Regions from separate parts of the Homo sapiens genome. Here region 2 is linked to region 1. A link means that fine-mapping ties the variant in region 1 to the expression of a gene that starts in the linked region. Tissue or cell type: whole blood. Region 1 holds a variant in brackets; the other region holds the start of a gene. All regions are shown on one strand. Distances are from middle to middle. Region 1 overlaps WDFY4 (WDFY family member 4). Region 2 holds the start of WDFY4 (WDFY family member 4).

The links. PIP is the estimated chance that this variant, and not a neighbour inherited with it, causes the effect.
Region 2: it holds the start of WDFY4, and the variant in region 1 is fine-mapped to the expression of WDFY4 in whole blood (TOPMed, PIP above 0.99). The same link has a PIP of 0.9 or more in blood mononuclear cells.

The regions. Positions count from the first base shown.
Region 1 is chr10:48,722,477-48,725,352 of GRCh38, reverse strand. It overlaps WDFY4 (WDFY family member 4), which reads right to left. Exons shown (of 62, transcript NM_001394531.1): 5 at 1,786-1,920. Among named protein-coding and RNA genes, the nearest start is that of WDFY4, 39 kb to the right of the region's middle. The variant C/G (reference allele first, on the strand shown) is at 1,449.
Region 2 is chr10:48,683,177-48,686,124 of GRCh38, reverse strand. It overlaps WDFY4 (WDFY family member 4), which reads right to left and starts at 1,252. Exons shown (of 62, transcript NM_001394531.1): 1 at 1,124-1,252. RefSeq lists enhancers at 462-1,002, 1,021-1,320, 2,251-2,330 and a silencer at 1,981-2,030.

The sequences.
Region 1 (2,876 bases):
TAGCATGGCCCATAGCATCCTGCATGGACTAGCACTGCCTTCTCACTCACTTTATCCACTGCAGCTCCCCCCTGGGCTCTTGGGGGTCCAACAGGACCTGCTGCCAGTGTGACAAATATCACAAGCTACTTCCATGGGAAGACATTTTCCCCTTCTAGTCTGATACAGAGAGAAGCTGGGCTTCATGGACCACAGCTGTAGGTCCCATTTCCCTGCCTCCCTTGCAGGTAGCTGTGGCCATGTGACCAAGGTCTCACCTGTCCCTGGGCTTGCATTGCCATTTCTCTGCTCCTCTCCACTTCCTCCACCCCACCCGGCCACACTACCTCCTCAGACCCTGACAACCCTCAGCTCTCTGGTTAAATGCCATGCCCTCAGAATAGACTCCACTGATTTCTCTCATACAAATAAAAGCCTGTCACCATCATTGCCCAGTATACCTTTGGCTTTACCTACATAGCACTTAAAAAATTGCTAACTACTGCACTCCAGCCTGGGCAACAGAGAAAAGCCCCATCTCTATTTTTTTAATTGCTAACAACACACTTATTCCTGGATTGTTTTCCCCTTGTTTGACTTCTTCATCCTTCTGTCACCTCTCAAAGTGAAGCCCTATGCTTGCTGCAGCAACCATCTGTCTGCCATAGAGCTGCGCACAGTAGGGGCTCTGTATATTTTTGTGAAATGAAGTAACAGAAACCCTTGAGCAATGCAGGAATGGTCTATTCCCTGTGGCACACATTCTGTCCACATACCCAGAAGACCTCGAAGACAGACCCTGCACTACTTCCCTTCAGGGCACCTAAAAGCCACACAGTAAACATTTGTGAAAGTGCCTGGTGCAGCGTCCTGGCCTCCAATTAGAATATGATTTACATACAAGCAGATGACACCTACATTTCCACAAATGCAGCTCAGAGGGTAACCCACTGTTAATGGAACCTGCCAGAACTCATGCACTACCCTCTGGAAATGAGGAATGGGCTTGGGAATTCGTCTAATGTGGATGCCAATGTGGACATGTGTGTACCATGGACAGCTGCATTTGGGAATTCACTGAACAGTCACAGGCACCTGCTCTGTGTGAGACACTGCAGACACTGGACACACAGCGACGGGCCCCACAGTCCTCTGTATCCTCCCGGGCCACACGATCCTCCATACCGTCCCCTGCAAGCTCAGGGAGCAGGAAGGGTTATCTAGAGAGCTCAGAGTCTCAGAAGGTGAGAAAGCAGAAACTGCCCGGAAGTGGGCAGGGGAAGGAGGTGAGAAGTTAGTCAGTCAAAGAGAAGAGGAAAGATGGGGAATGACAGAAGGAAATTGCATTTGATGCTTAGAGGCCTGAGATGTCTTCTGAGAGGAAGGAAGAGGCACCGAGAACATGTAAACTCAAGTTTACTCAAGGGTGCCAATCCCAGCCCCACCCAAGACTTCTATGACCCCAGACC[C/G]CATGCTCACTCACCATGCCTCAGTTTGTATGGACCCAGGATGACAACACTATTTACATCCTGTGATGGCAGACAGCAATCCTGGAGGTGACCCATGTGAGGCCATGGCACAGGGGTGGGTACAAAGCTTATATTTAGAAAATTTTGGCTACTATTTTGCTAGTGGGGCAGACTGTGCAGTGGTGGGGAGGGGAGGGGGAGGTTAGACCCTCTGGGAGAACAGAGGAGTTCAGGAACCAGGGCTGAGAAAGACAAAAGCATCTACGGGAAGCATTGGAGAGTCTGTCCCCGAAGTGAGGTTTTGACCCAGGGAATTGGAGGCCCTCCTTGAACTCACCTGCACGAACATCTTTTGAACTTGAAGATCACTCTCAAGAAGCTCATCTTTGTCCAGAGGAAAGACAAAGAAGAGGTAAAGGCACTGTAGGAGCAGGGCTGGAAGCCCAGACTCAGCAACCCTGCCCAGCGTCTCCTGCAAGAGAAGAGCACACGTGACCCCAGGCAGCAAGGCAGCAGAAGCAGGTCAGCCCAGACCCAGGATCAGGCCCCTGCAGCCATTTCAGTGAGGCCATGGGACAGTCCCTCTGGGCTCCAGTCCTCAAGTGTGAAATGCTGACAACCAGAGGATGCACCTAGGGTGGCTGTGAAGATTAAGTTTATATAAAGTGCTTACTATGTGCTCTATAGCTCCTTTATAAGATTCATAGATGGAAGGAAGGAAGGGAGGGAGAGAGGGAGGGAGAGAGGGAGGGAGGGAGGGTGGAAAGGAGGGAAAAGGGGAGGGACTGTAGAAATTAGAACATAAGGGCTTCCTAACAAATCATACTGTGTGACTGTGGTCCAGGGCCTCATGATTAGGAAGGGAAAGCAGTCCAGAGGTGAGGCTGATAATATGTGTGTGAGCAACAATGGTGAGGACCTGATCAGGCCCCTCCCCAACCTCTCATCTAGATCCCAGACAGATCTCGTCAAGGTCCAAAGAGTGCAATAGGTGATGACTGACAATCAGACAGCCAGCAACTCAACTAAACAGCTCAGGGCTGCCAGACAGAGGCCAAGAGGACAGGAACTCTGCAGAGATGGAGACCAGCCTGCCAGGAGCTTCCTGGGGTCTTTCTTCCTGGGGCTTTGCCTGCAGCTCCACCAGGATTACTGCACCTGCACCCTCTGTGTGTGCGTGTGTGCGCACGCACGTGTGTGTGTGTGCATGATGCATGTGTGCATGTGTGTGTGCACGTGTGTGTGTGCATGCACACATGTGAACACCTTTGGGGTCAACCTATGGAATGCTGTCCATGCAACTTCCCATTCCACTGGTTAACCTGACAGACATGTTGGGGAAGTCAGAGAAAGAGAAGGACGAATGTACAGTCTGGGCCAGGATCAGGACTAGATGCAGGCTGCTGGTCCTAGCCTTGGCCAGAAAGG
Region 2 (2,948 bases), 39 kb after region 1:
AGACAGGAAGGGCCTCCCTGACCTGACCCTGTTCCCTACCTCTCTGGCCAGAACCCCAGGCATGCCCCTTACCCGGCTCTGCCACACCAACCTCCACGAGGTCTCCTCCTCCAGACCCTTATCAAGAACACTTCTCAGAAACCCACAGGACTCGGCCTCCCTCACAGGTCCCCTCTCAGAAGACTAGAGCCATCCCCACCCTCCCAAGACCCCCACCCTACCTGCTATTCTCCCACCTGCTGAGCACCGTAGACCCCTGTCCGCTTTGACCAGAGCCTGGCAGGGCGTGGTTTCTCAATACCTATTTGTTAAATAACTAAATGAATGACTATACATAAACTCATATTAAAATTAGTGTGCTCCATGGAAAGGGTAATGCATAGAGCCCTTAGTTATCAAACCAGCCCCCCCACACTTTAGATGAGTTGGGACAAAGGATCGGTTTAGTGTTCTAGAAGTTTCATTTCAGGGGAAAAGAAGAATCAGTCCTTACTGAGCAGGTGGCCCTGCTTAGGCAGAAAATGCAGGCGTTTCAATGGTTTGCTGTAATAATTCAGATGAGGGAAGTGAGCCCAGGGAGGCACCTACTTACCAGAACCCAGTGGAGTAATGACAGGGCCGGGATAGACCAGCTCCCTCTGAGGCCCGTTGGAAATGGCCCTCCAACTCTGCACTCCTCAGAGGCCTATGAGGGAGCTTGGAGGGCGAGCCTCACTGTCCTGTCGGCCTGCTCTCTCCGCCCCCTCGACAACCAGGAAAGCCCGTGTCAGCCCTTCCCAGGGTTCCCTTCATAGCAGGACCCCGAGAAAGGACTTGACCTACCGTCAGAGGTCGAGGAGTGCTGCTGGAGCCCAGCCTGACTCCCAAACTTCAGCAGTGACACACACTCAGGCAGACCCAGGCCCTGGAGTGGCCCTGACCACATGGGCCCCCCACGCCACACACACTTCCTGCTCCCCAGCTCACCTCCTCTCCCACATTCACAAACCCAAACCAGGCACTGGGTCACATGTGCCCCATAGTCAGCCTCCCAGGAGGCAGCCAGTAGGCCCCACGCTGACAGGCGGCGCCCATATGCCCACCTCTAGGCTGGCCTGGCTGGGCCAAGAGCAAGGTGGCCTACCTGGAGGGGTGGCCGTCAGCGCCTGTAGACATCAGAAGGCATGGGCCCCCTATCCCCAGCTGCAGCCCCTCAGGCTCGGGGGAAGAGGACCCGGCCCCACATCGTCAGTCCTCAGCGCCGTTTCACTCTGAATCACTGGAGCTGGGTCTCTGCTCATTTCCTGGAGAAAGCAGAAGTGGAGAGCCGGCAGATGCCTGACTCTGCCCACTCTCCAGCCGACCACGGAGCTGCTGGAGTTCTGGCGGGTGACTTGGGTTCTGCAGCAAGGCCCCTTGGGGCTGGCTGTGCAGCCTCCGTGGTCAAGCGGTGCTGGTTGGGGCCAAGGACAAAATGGAAAGTACAGCCCAGCCCTAGAAGAGTAGGTCTGGATTCTGTGTCCCCTCTTCACTAGCCGTGTGACCACTGGTGCACACCTCTCCTCTCTGGGCCTCTGGCAAAATGAGAACAATGATGGTGTTAGGTGAATCTAATCAGAGGTGTGTTTAAGTGCACCCCTGGACATGGCATGGGTTGGGCAGCCCTCACCCCACCAAGCTCAGAGTTGCCCACTTGGATTTCTTCCTCCCCCATCCTCAGATAGAACTTGAACCACCAATGAGGGGAGTCCTCCTGCGGCCAACACTGAGGCAAGGATGAGAGGACATCTAAAACCATAGAATGGAAGTCTCTGAAACTCAGACTCCAAATTCTCATTCCTCTGAGTATATAAACTAGGCTGAATTATCCATGTCACCTATCCATAACGTCATCTCCACAGTACAAACAAGCATGTCCATTCACACACAATCCTGCTTGTGCTCTGTAAAAGGAGAATTTTGCCAAAGAGCAAGGGCACTTGTTAGCGCTAATGCCTGATCCTTGATCCTCAGTGCAGCTCATCGCTTGTCTCTAGCTCACAAAACCAGTGGACCATGCATGACTGACTGAGAGGCAGCAACAACATCACTTGTTATGACATGGAGTAAAGCTCCAAGATTGGTTTAAAGAGGAAAATAACATTTGTCACAAAACCTCAACCTCCACCAGTGCAAACTTGTCAGTAGACAGCAGCCAAAATAGGAGATCTATCCAGCTGCACTCCAGTCTGGACAGCAAGAGCGAAGCTCCGTCTCAAAAAAAAAAAAAAGAAAAAAAAGAAAAGAAAAGAGAAATTGAAAGGATACATGCAGTGCCAGCCAAGGGAAAGAGAAAACCTTAGAGAATTTGCAGTGAAGTGTTTGTTGTATATGATGAAAACCCCTCGTCATTGTCACCAATGAAATCATAAATAAAATCTACAAGAAGATATTGCCTGAAATCAGAGGCCTATGGTAAGAGCGGATTAGACAGAGGAACTTCCACAGAGGCAGGAAGGGTGGCCAGCATGGGACAGGCCAGGACCCCATGCCTGTGAATGCCCAGAGGAAGCGCGGAGAGTCTGTCATAGTGGGATCTCGCAAAGTCTGCTGGAGGGCCCACCTGCACCCAGGTCTCCTACCTTCTACCCACCCCAGCACCTTGCCGGGTAGCCAGCAGCAGGCAGGTAAAGAGCACTAAATTCAGAGCTAGAAACTCAAGGTTGAAATTCTCACTATCTTAACTGAGATAATTGACATCTTATTTGCAGAATGAATGAATGCCTTGTTAGAAGGAACAAATCAAATAATATTTGCAAGAGAGGTTTTTTTTTTTTGAGACGGAGTCTCGCTGTCGCCCAGGCTGGAGTGCAGTGACGCGATCTCGGCTCACTGCAGGCTCCGCCCCCCGGGGTTCACGCCATTCTCCTGCCTCAGCCTCCTGAGTAGCTGGGACTACAGGCGCCCACCACCTCGCCTGGCTAATTTTT